Linked DNA regions of Homo sapiens: region 2 is linked to region 1. The links come from fine-mapping of genetic effects on gene expression. A gene starts in region 1. The other region holds a variant in brackets. All regions are shown on one strand. Distances are between the middles of the regions.

Evidence for each region.
Region 2: its variant is fine-mapped to the expression of CERS5 in tibial nerve (GTEx, PIP above 0.99).

What each region holds. Positions count from the first base shown.
Region 1 is chr12:50,163,353-50,171,681 of GRCh38, reverse strand. CERS5 (ceramide synthase 5) reads left to right here and starts at 4,313. Exons shown (of 10, transcript NM_147190.5): 1 at 4,313-4,581. The coding sequence starts at 4,385. It overlaps LOC124902931 (a long non-coding RNA gene), which reads right to left. Exons shown (of 2, transcript XR_007063304.1): 2 at 6,059-6,656. RefSeq lists enhancers at 2,964-3,725, 3,777-3,936, 4,827-4,966 and silencers at 4,037-4,436, 4,537-4,686.
Region 2 is chr12:50,265,818-50,274,146 of GRCh38, reverse strand. All of the region lies in intron 1 of LIMA1 (LIM domain and actin binding 1), which reads left to right. Among named protein-coding and RNA genes, the nearest start is that of LIMA1, 14 kb to the left of the region's middle. RefSeq lists a silencer at 837-1,016. The variant C/T (reference allele first, on the strand shown) is at 4,544.

The DNA.
Region 1 (8,329 bases):
GCGCAGTGGCTCACGCCTGTAATCCCAGCACTTTGGGAGGCCAAGGTGGGCGGATTACGAAGTCAGGAGATTGAGACCATCCTGCTAATACAGTGAAACCCCGTCTCTACTAAAAATACAAAAAAATTAGCCGGGTGTGGTGGCGGGCGCCTGTAGTCCCAGCTACTAGGGAGGCTGAGGCAGGAGAATGGCGTGAACCTGGAAGGCGGAGCTTGCAGTGAGCCGAGATCGCGCCACTGCTCTCCAGCCTGGGCGACAGAGCTAGACTCCGTCTCAAAAAAAAAAAAAAAAAAAAAAAAAATTCGGCCGGGCGTGGTGGCTCAAGCCTGTAATCCCAGCCATTTGCGAGGCCCAGGCGGGTGGATCACTTGGGTCAGGAGTTCCATGGCCAACATAGCGAAACACAATCTCTACTAAAAATACAAAAATTAGCAGGGCATGGTGGAGCCTGCCTGTAATCCTAGCTACTCGGGAGGCTGAGGGGAGAGAATAGCTTGAATCCAGGAGACGGAGGCTGAAGTGAGCCGAGATCCCGCCAGTGCACTCCAGCCTGGGCTACAGACCGAGACTCCGTTTCAAAAAAAAAAAAAAAAAAGCCGGGCGCGGTGGCTCACGCCTGTAATCCCAGCACTTTGGGAGGCCGAGGCGGGCGGATCACGAGGTCAGGAGATCGAGACCATCCCGGCTAAAACGGTGAAACCCTGTCTCTACTAAAAATACAAAAAATTAGCCGGGCGTAGTGGCGGGCGCCTGTAGTCCCAGCTACTTGGGAGGCTGAGGCAGGAGAATGGCGTGAACCCGGGAGGTGGAGCTTGCAGTGAGCTGAGATCCCGCCACTGCACTCCAGCCTGGGCGACAGAGCGAGACTCCGTCTCAAAAAAAAACAAAAAACAAAAAACAAAACAAAACAAACAAACAAAAAAAACACTTTAGGCTGGGCGGAGTGGCCTCACGCCTGTAGTCCCAGCACTTTGGGAGTGTGAGAAATCGGAAAGTTCTTCAAAGATTATAAAAAGTCACAATTTCTTACTATAAGATTGCTATCCACTGTGTGTGTGTGTGTGTGTGTATGTATGTGTGTGTGTGTGTGTGTGTGTGTGTGTGTGTGTGTGTGTATTCCAAATCAGCTGTCCTAGATTGCTCCTGCATGCCTGGACAGAACTAGACAAGCCCCAGCCCACAGTGCATGCCATTCCTTATTTGGTGATGCTTCCTTAATGATCCCTGGGCAACTTCCTTTTCTTTCTTTGTTCTGTTCCCCTTAACCAATTTTAAAAGTTTTAAACTAATAGCCAATCAGGTAAAGTGTAAAATGTGAGGTCCTATTCCAGCCAATGGAAAATGGACACAGCAGTAGGGTAGACACCTCAGATTATAAATAACTCTGTCTCCTTTGTTCGGTGTGCTCTCATGGCTAGACAGCTTTTGAGTAGCAGCACCCTTTCTGCAGAAAGTAAAGCTCTCCTTGCTGAGAGATCATTTGTTCCCGTGTTTTTTTGTTTTTGTTTTGTTTTCTTTTCTTTTCTTTTTGCAACACCAAAAACTTCATTCCCAACAGGGATACTGAGACAGGCAGATCACTTGAAGTCAGGAGTTCGAGACCAGCCTGGCCAACATGGTGAAACCCCAGGCTCTATCAAAAAATACAAAAATTAGTCGGGTGTGGTGGCACGTGTCTGTAGTCCCAGCTACTCGGGAGGCTGAGAAGGGAGGATCTCTTGAACCCAGAGGTGGAGGTTGCAGTGAGCAGAAATGGCACCACTGCGCTCCAGCCTGGGTGTGAGACTCCTTCTCACAAAAAAACATGCAAACAAACAAAACAGCCAAATTTAAAGGAGTTTTTTGTTTGTTTGTTTGTTTTGTTTTTTCTTTCCAAGACAAAGTCTCACTCCGTTGCCCAGGATAGAGTGCAGTGGTGCTATCTCAGCTCACTGCAACCTCCGCCTCCTGGGTTCAAGCGATTCTCTTGCCTCAGCTTCCCAAGTAACTGGGACTACAGACACGCACCACCACGCCCAGCTAATTTTTGTATTTTTAGTAGAGACGGAGTTTCACCATGTTAGCCAGGATGGTCTCGATCTCCTGACCTGTGATCCGCCTGCCTCGGCCTCCCAAAGTGCTAGGATTACAGGCGTGAGCCACCGTGCCCAGCCTAAAGGAGTTTGAGCAATGTATGATTCTCAAATTGGGCAGCCCCTGAATCACAGCAGATTCAGAGAGACCCAGCATATCCACAGAGACCCAGCATATTCACGTGGTGGAAGATTTATGGACAGCAAAATGAAAGTGAGGTACAGAAACAACCAGATTGGTTACAGATCAGCGTTTGTCTCATTTGAACGTGGTTGGAACAGTTGGCTACATTTGATTGGCCAAAATTCAGTGATTGGCACTGGTGTGGTCTACGTTCGATTTACACCTCCACTTGTTACAGTTCACAATGTACAGAAAACCTTTAGGCCGAACTTAAATATGTAAGGAGGCAGCTTTAGATTAAACTTGACTTAACACTAGCTACCACTTCTTACCTACATAACTTTGGGCAAGTTGTTTGGCCTCACTGGACCTCAGTTTACTTATCCAGTGGGGATAACAAGATCAACTTTATAGGGTGAAGGAGTGAAATAACCTGTGTAAAATGTTCCATGCAGTGCCTGGCACACAGGAAACCTCATCAAACATTGGCTATTTATTTTGTTTTGCCTTTAGGTCCTTTAGATATACTTTTTTTTTTTTTTTTTTTGAGACGAGTCTCACTTTGTCGCCCAGGCTGGAGTGTAGTGGCGCAATCTGGGCTCACTGCAAGCTCCGCCTCCCGGGTTCACGCCATTCTCCTGCCTGAGCCTCCCAAGTAGCTGGGACTACAGGCGCCCGCCACCATGCCTGGCTAATTTTTTGTATTTTAATAGAGATGGGGTTTCACCGTGTTAGCCAGGATGGTCTCGATCTCCTGACCTCATGATCCGCCCGCCTCGGCCTCCCAAAGTGTTGGGATTACAGGCGTGAGCCGCGCCCGGCCTTTTTTTGTTTGTTTTTGTTTTGAGACGCTCTGTTGCCTAGGCTGGAGGGCAATGGCGTGGTCTCGGCTCACTGTGATCTCCGCCTCAAGCAATTCTCCTGCCTCAGCCTCCCGAGTAGCTAGGATTACAGGCATGCACCACCACACCCGGGTAATTTTTGTATTTTTAGTAGGGACGGGGTTTCACCATGGCCAGCCTGGTCTCGAACTCCTTACCTCAGGTGATTCTTCCGCCTTGGCCTTCCAACGTGCTGGGATTACAGGCGTGAGCCACCACACCCGGCCTGCCTTTACGTATACTTTTTGAGTGCTTCCCTTTTCACTTTGTTTTTCTTCCATTTCCTTTTCCCCAAGAGAAGAATAAAAGGATTTTTGTAAACTTTTTTTATTTTTATTTTGGGACGGAGTCTTTGGTCTGTCGCCCAGGCTGGAGTGCAATGGCGCGATTTCGGCTCACTGCGACCTCCGCCTCCCAGGTTCAAGCGATTCTCCTGTCCCAGCTTTCCGAGTAGCTGGGATTACAGGCACAGCGCCACCAGGCCCAGCTAATTTTTGTATTTTTAGTAGAGACGGGGTTTTGCCATGTTGGCCAGGCTGGTCTCGAACTCCTGACCTCAGGTGATCCGCCAGCCTCGGCCTCTGAAAGTGCTGGGATTACAGGCGTGAGCCACCGCGCCCGGCCTTTTGTAAACTGTTAAGTCCATTTTTTCTGAGGAAAAGTGACTAATTTTTAAGGGATAAAGCAGTGAAAGTAGGCTGAGGTCACGGGGCACGAAGGGAAGAAAAGGTTGGGAGCGAAAAGAACTCTAGTGGCGGACAGTAGTGGGCAGGACCAGCTGACATCCAAGAGAAGCCCTGACCTGAGAGATCGATCTGGCCTCCGGGAGTGGAGACAGAGGTACCGCCTGGGTGGGAGCCGGAACGGATTCGATTCCAACAGGCTGAGAAAGGAGAATGTCCCCGTAAAGGAGCTAGGCCTGAAATAAGGGGTGTGGCCGTAGCTGGATGGAAGAGTGAGGGAGGAGTAGAAGCGTGGCCTAGACCAGCAGCAAAAGAGGGCGGGCCCAGGGCCGCCCGAGGCGTGGTCCCAGGGCCGGGCTGGGCGAGTCAGAGGCTCGGGAAGGGGCGTGGATCCCCGGAGGCGGTCCCCGGGTTGCAGTGAGGGAAGTGGGCCGGGAGGAGAGATGGGCGGTGAAGAGGCCCGGCCCTGCCAGGGAGGCGGGCGGATCCGTGGCAGTGACCAGAAGGGGCCGGAAGGGGGTGGCCGCCGGCCGGGCCCCGCCCTGGGGCCGCCTCCCCGCGGGTTCCGTTGGCTGTGGCGGCAGCTGACGCTTGTGGCGGCGGTGGCTTCGGGGTGGGCGTAAGATGGCGACAGCAGCGCAGGGACCCCTAAGCTTGCTGTGGGGCTGGCTGTGGAGCGAGCGCTTCTGGCTACCCGAGAACGTGAGCTGGGCTGATCTGGAGGGGCCGGCCGACGGCTACGGTTACCCCCGCGGCCGGCACATCCTCTCGGTGTTCCCGCTGGCGGCGGGCATCTTCTTCGTGAGGCTGCTCTTCGAGCGGTGAGAGCCCGGGAGCGAGCGGCTCGGGGGCCGGGCGCGGGCCGGGGGCGCCCCGCTGTGGGAAGGGCCGAGGGCCGGAAGCAGAACTGCAAGGAAAGCCCGGAAGCAGGGGCTGGGGGAGCTTGGGCCGCGGCGGGTGATGCTAGGCGCGTGGGCGAGGTGGTAGCCTAGATGGAGAAGGAGTTTGGGGCGTGGGCAAGAGAAAGAGTGAGGGTCTAGGGGAATGCTGGGCCCCTTCAATGTTAGATCCGGAGTTGGATTGGGGGGGTCATATAGGCCTCCTCCCAACCTCCAAGGGTCCTACAGATGAGGAAACAGGTTCAGTGTGAGCTCTGGCAGAGGCCCCGAAGAGAGGGATAGGAAGGGGCCAGGAGAACCAGAGCTAGTTGTGACCATGGAAGCCGAGGGGTCAACGCAAGGGCCAGACGTTCCAAGGGAAAGGAATGGACTCATCAGACTCTTAAGATTTGTTAGGACGCTTGAGTTTCCGAGAATTGGGGGGAACAGGATTAGTTTGGCCCTAAGAGTTGGTTTGGTATGTCAACTCATGCACGTTTGTTGGTAGGAGGGTAGAAATCTGGTTGGGATAGGGTGTGGTGGAGCCCTAGGCTTCCAAAGTAATGGAAAGATGTCAGATTAGTTGCAGAACAGGCCTTGGGGCCTGAAATGGAAGGAGGAGTGTGTTCGAAGGGATGGAGGAGAGCCACAGGGCTTTATCAGAGGACAGCTATATTGAGCCAGATTCTTTTTTCTTTTCTTTTTTTTTTTTTTTTTTTTGAGACAGAGTTTCGCTCTTGTTGCCCAGGCTGGCGTGCAATGGCACGATCTCGGCTTACCGCGACCTCCGCCTCCCCTGTTGAAGCGATTCTCCTGCCTCAGCCTCCCGAGTAGCTGGAATTACAGGCACGCGCCACCACGCCCGGCTACTTTTTGTATTTTTAGTAGAGACGGGGTTTCGCCATGTTGGCCAGGCTGGTCTGTAACTCCTGACCTCAAGTGATCCGCCCGCCTCTGCCTCCCAAAGTGCTGGGATTACAGGCGTGAGCCACCGCACCCGGCCTTGAGCCAGCTTCTAAATGAGTTTAGCAGAATTGCAGTATACTTTGTTCAACCACATGATTTCACCTTTAAGTGAATGGATCATATGTTTGTCCAAGATAAAGATATTCACTGAGGCTTTGGTGTGTGATATTATAATGTGAATTTATACCTGTGGGTGATTTTGATCAAGTCTACTCAGACTCCAAGAAAGGAGACATGTTTCTGCCATAGGCCTCAGGTAATGAGGGTGGTTCTTGGACATCTGTTCGTTTTGCCTTTATCCAAGCATAAATGATTGTAATGCAGGAATGCCCTTTCTAGGATGGGAATATGTTGCAGGTGAAATAATCTGTTAATTTCTGAAAGATAGCATCTGTTTGGGATTGCTTCTTTGATTTGCCTACTGTTTTTGACTCAAGTCTTTCAAAATCTTGTGTTCTATTTAGCTAGTCACGCATCCATTTATTCGTAGTATTTGTGCATCATCATCATCAAAATGCTCTGCCAGACGTTCAAGTGCAAAAATAAAGATGCTTAAGTGAAGCAAATGAAACCCAAAGATCTAAATGGCTTTCCTTGGCCCTCAGGAACTTAGTGTAGCAAGGTTTTTTTTTTTTTCTTTTTCTTTTTCTTTTTTTTTTGAGACGGAGTCTCGCTCTGTCGCCCAGGCTGGAGTGCAGTGGCGCGATCTCAGCTCACTGCAAGCTCCGCCTCTCGGGTTCACGCCATTCTCCTGCTTCAGTCTCCCGAGTAGCTGAAACTACAGGCGCCCGCCACCATGTCCGGCTAATTTTTTGTATTTTTAGTAGAGACGGGGATTCACCGTCTTAGCCAGGAAGGTCTCGATCTCCTGACCTCGTAATACGCCTGCCTCGGCCTCCCAAAGTGCTGGGATTACAAGCGTGAACCGCCGCGCCCGGCCTTGTTTTGTCTTTTTACGTGTAATCGTTGTAGTTAGTCATCCTGGAGTGGAGGCACAAACTGCTTGTCTGTCTTTGGAATAAACTAGATCCAGGTACTCTCTTCCATAGTCTCTGTATATGAGGGCCAAAAAAAAAAAGGAGGAAGGCAATGTAATCACTACAAAGGAAAATACACAAGTCAGGACAAATTTTTTTTTAAAAGGTGATTTTCATAGAAAAACATCTCTGCTTTTCATATAAATATGTGCCAATATGGAAATTTCCCCATGTTAGTGGTAAGAGGAAATAGTTTTGTTGCTTATAAACACCCATTTTATATAAACTTACGTATCTCTTGAGATTCCAAAGTGTTCCCTCAGATGGCTGAAGACATATATCCCCTGGCAGAGCTGCTGGAAGGGATCCTTTACCTGTGGGAATTCTATCTGAGTGTTTCTATGGTGCTCCAGTGTCAGAGGAGTACAGGTGGATGGGAATACTGAGCTGAAAGCATTCTAGTATGATAATTCTTGGCTAGTAAAGACAGGCACCTTGTTTGTCTCATGTTTGCTCTTAGGAAAGTTTAACCCTAGAAGCACTCTTGCTATTTTGTTTCTTTTAAGACCCATTACCTCAGTAATATAATTCACTGCTGACTTGCCAATTCCTCTTTTACCGTTCTGGTCTTCCATAAAGAAAATAGACCACTCCACTCTTATTGTTGTTTTTGAGACAGGGTCTCAGCCTCACCCAGGCTGGACTGCAGTGGCACGAAGCTCACTCCAGCCTCGACCTCTTTGGCTCAAGCAATCCTCCTACCTCAGCCTCCCAAGTAGCCAGGACCATAGGTGCACACCACTATGCCCAGCTAATTAAAAAAAAAAAAAAAAATTGGGAGAGCGGGGCATGGTGGCTCACACCTGTAATCCCAGCACTTTGGGAGGCCGAGGCAGGGAGATCACTTGAGGCCAGGAGTTCGAGACCAGCCTGGCCAACATGGTGAAACCCCATCTCTACTAAAAATATAAAAATTAGCTGGGCATAGTGGTACATGCCTGTAATCCCAGCTACTCAGGAGGCTGAGGCATGAGAATTGCTTGAGTTGGAGAGGCAGAGGTTGCAGTGAGCCAAGATCACACTGTTGCACTCCAGCCTGGGCTGCAGAGGAAAACTCTGTCTCAAAAAAAAAAAAAAAAATTGTAGAGGCTGGGCATGGTGGCTCATGCCTGTAATCCCAGCACTTTGGGAGGCCGAGGAGGGCAGATCACTTGAGCCTAGGAGTTTGAGACCAGCCTTGGCAACATGGTGAAACCTTGTCTCTACAAAAAAATTTAAAAATTAGCTGGGTGTGATGGTGCATGCCTATAGTCTCTAGTCTCATCTACTTGGGAGGCTGAGGCAGGAGGATTGCTTGAACCCGGGAGGTTGAGACTGCAGTGAGCCGTGATCAAACCACTGTACTTCAGCCTGGGTGATAGAGTGAGACCCTGTCTCAGAAAAATAAATAAAATAAATTTTTGTAGAGGCCTGAGCTCCTGGCCTCAAGCGATCCTGCTGCCTCAGCTTCCCAAAGTTTTGGGATTACTGGCATGAGCCACTGCCCCTGGCCTAGAGCCACTTGTAGAATGCAATAGAAGGCATATCAAAAATATCGGGGCATGGCCTTGCATGCTGGCTCACACCTGTAATCCCAGCACTTTGGGAGGCCGAGGCAGGCAGATCACTTGAGGTCAGGAGTTTGAGACCAGCCTGGCTAACAACATGAAATCTCATCTCTACTAAAAATACAAAAATAGCCCCGCGTA
Region 2 (8,329 bases), 100 kb before region 1:
TTTTTTTTAACTGGACAACAGCTGAGGTCGGTCCATCTGGGTTCAAATCAGGTAGCAGTCTCTGAGGAGTTCGGAAGGTAGCAGGACAAAAGTTTGGATACTGTGACAACCAGGATTAAGTTCCATCTGAGTGCAAGTTTTCTAAGGTGTTTCCAGGATCCAGGCCACTATTTTCCTACCACTATAGCCATCTACTTCCCAGATTGTTACTCTGGATTATACTAGTCTATCAACTCCTATTACATTTTCAAAAGCCAGTGTGGCAAAACTAAAACCCAATTACTGGAATCCACAAACAACCAGAAGTTTTCTTCTGTTTTCATTCTCTAGGAGAAAAATTAGAAAGCTATCTAGAATCTTCAAGAAAAAATGAAATGATTTTCATTATACTTACTATTAACACATGCTCTGAAATGTGTTACTGTTTAGACACACTGTTTAGACAGTGTACTGATTAGAAAGATTTTCAGCAACAGCTTTAAACAAAAGGTTTCTTATTAACATCTAGTTGAACCAGACATTATAATGAATTAGTTCTAATTTCTATTTCTTTTCATTGGTTAGTCTTTTTTAATTCCATTTTTTTTCTTAATGCTGGCTTGAAGTTTTATTTAAAATAATGCTTTGTAGAGTAGCTGACAGTTTTCAAAGTACTTTTGCTTTTATCCTTTCATTTAGTCCTCATAAGCATCCTGTGTGAATCAATACCTGTTTTTGAGATGAAGAAATTGAGGCCCAAAGACAGTGATGATCTTTCCCCTGCCAACTGAAAGACCACTACCCAGCAAATGCCTCTCAATAACTATTTTCTACAGTCCCGAATTAAATGTAGCTTTTAGAAGCTAATCATTAAAATTCAATTGAAACAGTAACATTAATATGTTTATAACCAGGCCAGGTGTGGTGGCTCACGCCTGTAATCCCAGCACTTTAGGAGGCCAAGGCTGGCGGATCACTTGAGGTCAGGAGTTCGAGACCAGCCTGGCTAACATGGCAAAACTCCGTCTCTACTAAAATTACAAAAATTAGCCTGGGAGAGAGAGTAAGGCTCCCTCTTAAAAAAAAATGTTTATAACCAATTCTTTTTTTTTTTTTTTGAGACAGAGTCTTGCTCTGTTGTCCAGGCTAGAGTGCAGTGGTGTGATCTCTGCTCACTGCAAGCTCCACCTCCTGGGTTCACGCCATTCTCCTGCCTTAGCCTCCCGAGTAGCTGGGACTACAGGCGCCCGCCACAACGCCCGGCTAATTTTTTGTATTTTTTTTAGTAGAGAAGGGGTTTCACCATGTTAGCCAGGATGGTCTCGATCTCCTGACCTCGTGATCTGCCTGCCTCGGCCTCCCAAAGTGCTGGGATTACAGGGGTGAACCACCACGCCCGGCCCTATAACCAATTCTTAATAAGATACCTAGCACTGGTCCAGATAAGTAGCCAAATTTTATCACTTGTGTGGCGGTGTGATTTGGTACATCTTTATGTGATCAGCCTCAGTGATGCTTGTCCTTTATTAAGGCATTGTTACGTGGTAGCTGCTCAGATTTTTTTTTTTTTTTTTTGAGACGGAGTTTCGCTCTTGTTGCCCAGGCTGGAATGCAATGGCACGAGCTCGGCTCACTGCAACCTCCACCTCCCGGGTTCAAGCAATTCTCCTGCCTCAGCCTCCCGAGTAGCTGGAATTACAGGCATGCACCACCATGCCTGGCTAATTTTTTTGTATTTTTGGTACAGACGGCGTTTCTCCATGTTGGTCAGGCTGATCTCGAACTCCCGACCTCAGGTGATCCGCCCGCCTCGGTCTCCCAAAGTGCTGGGATTATAGGAATGAGCCACCGTGCCCGGCCAGCTTCTCTTTTAAAGAAAGGAAGGATTAAAGAACTTGCCTAGAGAAGAGTCACTTTTTAGTAAATCCATTTTAATTCTCCTGCTTGAAGGTATTGGTTAAACTGATCTGAACTGACTCTTCAGATTGAGCAAGTCCTGAAAAACAGCACATCATCTAAAATTTCAGATAAGAATGGAAGCCAGGCCCTTCCTGGAAATGTCCAGAAGTGAAACTAAGAAGCCCTGTATTTGGAGAAAACTTGATTAGTTATTAAGGACAAAGGGCTGCTTTAAGAAGGTTATATCTTTAACAGAAGGAGCCTTCCTAAAATAAGCGTATGTGTTTCTTTTGCTTTGAGATTGTAAAGAAGGCTCCTTAATGAACTATTTTGCCTTAATTAAGCATGTAATTGGCAAGACTTATGAGCATGTAGTTTCTCGGCAGATTTTCAGTTATGTAGGTGGGCCTTTGCTGAGATGTGTGGCAATTCAGTACTAGTGTAACACTGTTTTTCATTCATATAACAGATATTTATTGAGCCCCTACATGTTCCAGGCACTGGTATTCAGTACATCTGATGTTAAAGTATGGAAAGGTACAAAGGTTAAAGGAGAAATATGCTGTTCAGAGGAAGTCTGTGCTTTGTCGTGATGGTCTTGGTCAATTGTAAATTTCCACATTCTTTTTCTAATTAGCTATGTTTTTCTCTACTCTTTACCTTAAATTTGAAGCTAGTGACTTAATGATCTGTTTTTCTACTTACTGAAAGAGATTTTTCTTACTATGTGTGAAAAAAAACTACTGGAAAAATAAGAAAACCTCACTTCGTTGGATTATGTTTGCCCTTAGAATAAGTTAATGATCAGCTGGGACGGGGAGGGAAAGAACCAAATGAGCAAATAACAAATTTTATTAATTGGGAGAGAGGTGGAGTTAGACTTGAATTTGATCTGGTAATTTTTTAATTTAAAGGGAAAAAAAAAAGATTAGGAAAGTTCTTGGGTGGTTCTTCATGACCTACAAATTTTAGACCAAAGTCAGTTGTTTTTGTTTTTCAAGATAGAGTCTTGCCCTGTCGCCGAGGCTGGAGTGCAGTGGCATAGTCACGGCTCACTGCAGCCTCAAACTCCTGGGCTCAAGTGATCCTCCCACCTTAGCCTCCCAAAGTGCTGGGATTACAGGCGTAAGCCACAGCACCTGGCCCAAAGTCAGTTTTTTGTTTGTTTGTTTGTTTTGAGACGGAGTCTCGCTCTGTCGCCCAGGCTGGAGTGCAGTGGCACGATCTCGGCTCACTGCAAGCTCCGCCTCCTGGGTTCATGCCATTCTCCTGCCTCAGCCTCCCGAGTAATTGGGACCATAGGCACCCGCCACCACGCCCGGCTAATTTTTTGTGTTTTTAGTAGAGACGGGGTTTCACTGTGTTAGCCAGGATGGTCTTGATCTCCTGACCTCGTCATCCGCCCACCTCGGCCTCCCAAAGTGCTGGGATTACAGGTGCCCAAAGTCAGTTTTCAAAGGCTGTAACTGGGGTTACTCTTTTTTACCTGTCTAAATAAGATATGTGAAGATTACCACAATTATGTAAAAAACTAATTTGGGGTTCATAAGCACAAGAAGATAAGATATTCACACAAATGAATAAGGTAATAGAAGCCCTGTGGGAAGGTTATAGTTATGTTCTCTTCAACATAGAGTTCTTTTTTTTTTTTTTTTTTTTTTTTTGAGATAAGGTCTCACTCTGTTGCCCAGGCTGGAGTGCAGTGGCGTGATCTGGATTCACTGCAACCTCCACCTCCAAGGCTGAAGCAATCCTCCCACCTCAGCCTTCTGAGTAGCTGGGATTACAGGCTCAAGCCACCACACCTGGCTAACTTATTTGTTTGTACTTTTTGTAGAGATGGGGTTTTGCCATTTTTCCCAGGCTGGTCTTGAACTCCTGAACTCAAGCAATCTATCCTCCTTGGTCTCCCAGAGTGCTGGGATTACAGGCGTGAGCCACTGTGCCTGGCCCAACTTAGAGTTCTTACAGAGGTGTTGATGCGTTGATAACACCTAAAATTTTATCCCTTTTTTTTTTTTTTTTTTTTTTTTTTGACAGAGTTTCACTCTTGTTGCCCAGGCTAGAGTACAATGGCGCGATCTCGGCTCATCGCAACTTCTGCCACCCGGGTTCAAGAGATTCTCCTGCCTCAGCCTTCCCGAGTAGCTGGAATTACAGGCACGTGCTACCACACCTGGCTAATTTTGTATTTTTAGTAGAGACGGGGTTTCTCCACGTTGGTCAGGCTGGTCTTGAACTCCCGACCTCAGGTGATCCGCCCACCTCGGCCTCCCAGAGTGCTGAGATTACAGTCATAAGCCACCGTGCCTAGCCTTTTTAAATTTTTTTTTTTTTTTTTTTTTTATTTGACGGAGTTTTGCTCTTGTTGCCCAGGTTGGAGTGCAATGGTGTGATCTCAGTTCACTGCAACCCCCGCCTCCCAGGTTCAAGCGATTCTCTTGCCTTAGCCTCCCAAGTAGTTGGGATTACAGACATGTGCCACCACACCCGGCTAATTTTTTGTATTTTTAGTAGAGACGGGGTTTCTCCATGTTGGTCAGCTGGTCTCAAACTTGTGACCTCAGGTGATCCTCCCGCCTCGGCCTCCCAAAGTGCTGAGATTACAGGCATGAGCCACTGCGCCCGCTCCTAAAATTTTATCCTTAAGAGAGATAACTTTTAC[C/T]GATTTAGACTTTATGGTGCAGAGAAATGGTGTCAGGTCTTTGATCAGATCTGGTGTTCCTGGTAGTAACCATCAGTTTCTCAGATATTATTACATTAGAGATATTCTCTTTTTATTGGTGATTTAACAGAAATAAGCTGACCCTGAAATATCATGTACGCTAGAACTGCTTTTCTGGTTTATTTTCCGTGCTGCAGATCATTTTGTTTCCAGGCCAACCTCCTAAAAAATGAAAAGAGCTAACATTTATTTAACTTCTTTGGGCCTCAGTTTCTTCATCTGAATATTATTCAATAATACACTTACATAAAGTGAGTCGGTAATAATTCTGAGTGTGTTACTGTGAAGATTAAATAAGTTATATATGCAAAACAATTAAGACAGTATCTGACACATGGTAAATGGTCAATAAATGTTAGGTATTTTTATTACCACCACTGCTATCATTATTAAGTACTTATTTTAGCAATGTGCTAAGAGAACATTTTAGTGATGATGAAACTAAGGCTTAGAGTAATTTTCCTCATGTTACCCAGTAAGTGTGTGGTAGACTCAATATGTAGACTTGAGCCAAAAGGAGCCTTGGGTAGAGTTGGCTTAGATGTGGAATAGGCTGGGGCATCTGGCCCAGCCTTTAATATTCCTAGTTTCAAGACTCTTAAAGGATAAGACCGGTCCAGACAGCCCCTAAATACCGGGAAGATGTGGTTTGTAATATGTCATTAGAACATGGACATTATGGTCTGTGGGATTGTTTCAAATCCTAGCTCTATCAGTTATTAGCTCTGTGACCTTGAGCAAGTTATTGAACATTTCTAGAGCCTTAGTTTCTTCCTCTGTAAAATGAGAATAATAAATATTTGCTGACCCAGTGTGGTGGCTCATGCCTATAATCCCAGCACTTTGGGAGGCCAAGGTGGGAGGATCGCTTGAGCCCAGGAGTTCAAGACGAGCCTGGGCAACATAGCAAGACCCTGTCTCTTACAATAATAATAATAATAATAATAATTGCTTCATGGCAGTGTAAGAATTAAGTGAATAAGATCAAATGGAATGAGATAACATGTAAAGCACCTGGCATATGGCCAGTACTCAATAACCAATCCTCAGGCTTATGCTTAAGGGGTTCAAACTTGTACCTGATTCTGACATTATCTGTCTAGATGGTGAGCGTTTAGGGTCTGGGTCTGCAAAAATTAACATGTTTGGACTCCATATGAGAGGTTCAGATTCCATAGGTGATCCTGATACTCAGAGTACCACCCTTATCTGAAAGCACTAGACTGGGTGGTGGAGGGTAGCAGCAGTGATCCTCTCTCAATGCCTGGGCTGTCAGTGTCCGTCAGGCTTCTTACAGGGTTGTGCTCTGCTTAGAATATTAATGAGCAGTCAGGGGTGGGTGTCCTGCAAAAGGGAACCCCGCAGAAACGAGGCACTCATCTGTATAGTCAAGCGGCATTTTTGTTTGGAAAGAATATTAATGAGATCTGGATAAGAATCAGACACCAGGAAAGGACAGCTGCTGTGAGAGGCAAATCCAATTGTACAAGGAGTTACACATGATATTCAGAAAGTCCTTGTATAATTTAAAAAAAAGTAAGTTGTAGAGATAATAAACAATTTATAAATGTCGTTAAAAAAATAAATGTGGCCGGGCACGGTGGCTTACACCTGTAACCCCAGCAGTTAGGGAGGCAGAAGTGAGAGATAGGTTGAGGCTAGGAGTTTGAGGCCAGCCTGGGCAACATAGTGAGACCTCATTCTTCACCAAAAGAAAAAATAGGCAGGCTGGGTGTGGTGGCTCATGCCTGTAATCCCAGCACTTTGGGAGGCCGAGGCAGGTGGATCACAAGGTCAAGAGATCAAAACCATCCTGGCCAACATGGTGAAACCCCGCCTCTACTAAAAATACAAAAATTCACTGGGTGTGGTGGCATGCACCTGTAGTCCCAACTACTCAGGAGGCTGAGGCAGGAGAATTGCTTGAACCCAGGAAGTGGAGGTTGTAGTGAGCCAAAATTGCACCACTGCACTCCAGCCTGGCGACAGAGCGAGACTCTGTCTCAAAAAAAAAAAGTAAATGTGGCCAGGGGGCACGGTGATTCACACCTGTAATCCCAGCACTTTGGGAGGCCAAGGAGGGTGGATCATCTGAGGTCAGAAGTTCGAGACCAGCCTGGCCAACATGGTGAAACCCTATCTCTAAAAAAAAATACAAAAATTAGCTGGGCGTGACCGGGTGCGGTGGCTCACGTCTGTAATCCCAGCACTTTGGGAGGCCAAGGCAGGTGGATCACGAGGTCAGCAGATCGAGACCATCCTGGCTAACACGGTGAAACCCCATCTCTACTAAAAATACATATAAAATTAGCCGGACATTGTGGGGGATGCCTGTAGTCCCAGCTACTTGGGAGGCTGAGGCAGAAGAATGGCGTGAACCCGGGAGATGGAGCTTGCAGTGAGCCGAGATTGCGCAACTGCACTCCAGCCTGGGCGACAGAGCTAGACTCCGTCTCAAAAAATAATAATAAAAATAAAAAAATTAGCTGGGCATGGTGGCACGCCCCGGTAATCCCAGCTACTCAGGAGGCTAAGGCAGGAGAATCACTGGAACCCAGGAGGCAGAGGCTGCAGTGAGCCAAGATCAGGCCACTGCACTCCAGCCTGGGTGACAGAGTGAGACTCTGTCTCAGAATAAAAAAAAAGTAAATGTATTGAGTGGCCAACACATATTTGAAAATATGCTCAACCTCACTCATGATTAAAGGAGTGAAAACTAAAACAATAATGTACCATTTTCACACATCTATCAGATTGGAAAAAATAAAAATAATGCTTATTACTGACAAGAATGTGGAGAAAGATTCAAATATAAATGGATGTGACTTTTTTGAGGGAAATCTCAGAATATCTATTTAAAAATTTAATGCATAGGCCTTTTAAACTAGAAATGCTCCTTCTAGGAATTTATGCCGTAGATGCACCCCGCCCCAGGTAGGCAATAGTACAAGCATGTTTGTTCCATTCTTATTCATAACAGTGAAGAAGCAAAAGCAACCTACATGATCATCCACAGGGGCCTTGTTAAATAGGTTTTAAACTATTACAGAATGAAATATTATGAGGTACTGAAAGATTGAGATAGATCTGTATGCCCTGAGGTGGGAAGATGTTCAAGAGGAAATAAATAATTGCTGAACAGCACATTAACATGAAACCATTGTATTTCTAAAACATGTTTGTATTTATGCATGTTGTGTGTCAATTTCTCTGTGCCTCAGTTTTCTCATCTGTAAAATAGGCATCCTGATGGTACCTACCTCATGACTTGTTGCAAGGGTAAACTGAGATAACATATGTAGAGTGCTTAGTACAGTGACTGACACATAGTGCTTTGTGGTGGCAATTATTATTGTATAGGTAATAACAGAAAGTTTATGCTCCAGACTTTGACAGAGGTTACCTTTGAGAAGTAGAATTGGTTTGGGGGGAGGGCAGACAAGAGCTGGCAGGGACTTCTACTTCTTACATTGTGTATTTCCATAGCATTGTTTATATGGAGCAGGCCCATCCCTGGCCAGTCACTGACCGAGGAGCCTAGACAGTGAAGGAAGTGGCAGCTCTGTAGGCTCAACAAGTAGGCTTGTTGAGACCTGCAGAAGAAGGTTCCCCATGGGAAGGAGGAGGATAAGGAAGGGTGGTGCTGTGTGGAGATGGGAAGGATGTTTGTGGATTCCACCATGGCTACTGAAGTTTTTTTTTTGAAAACCACCTGACCTAATTAAA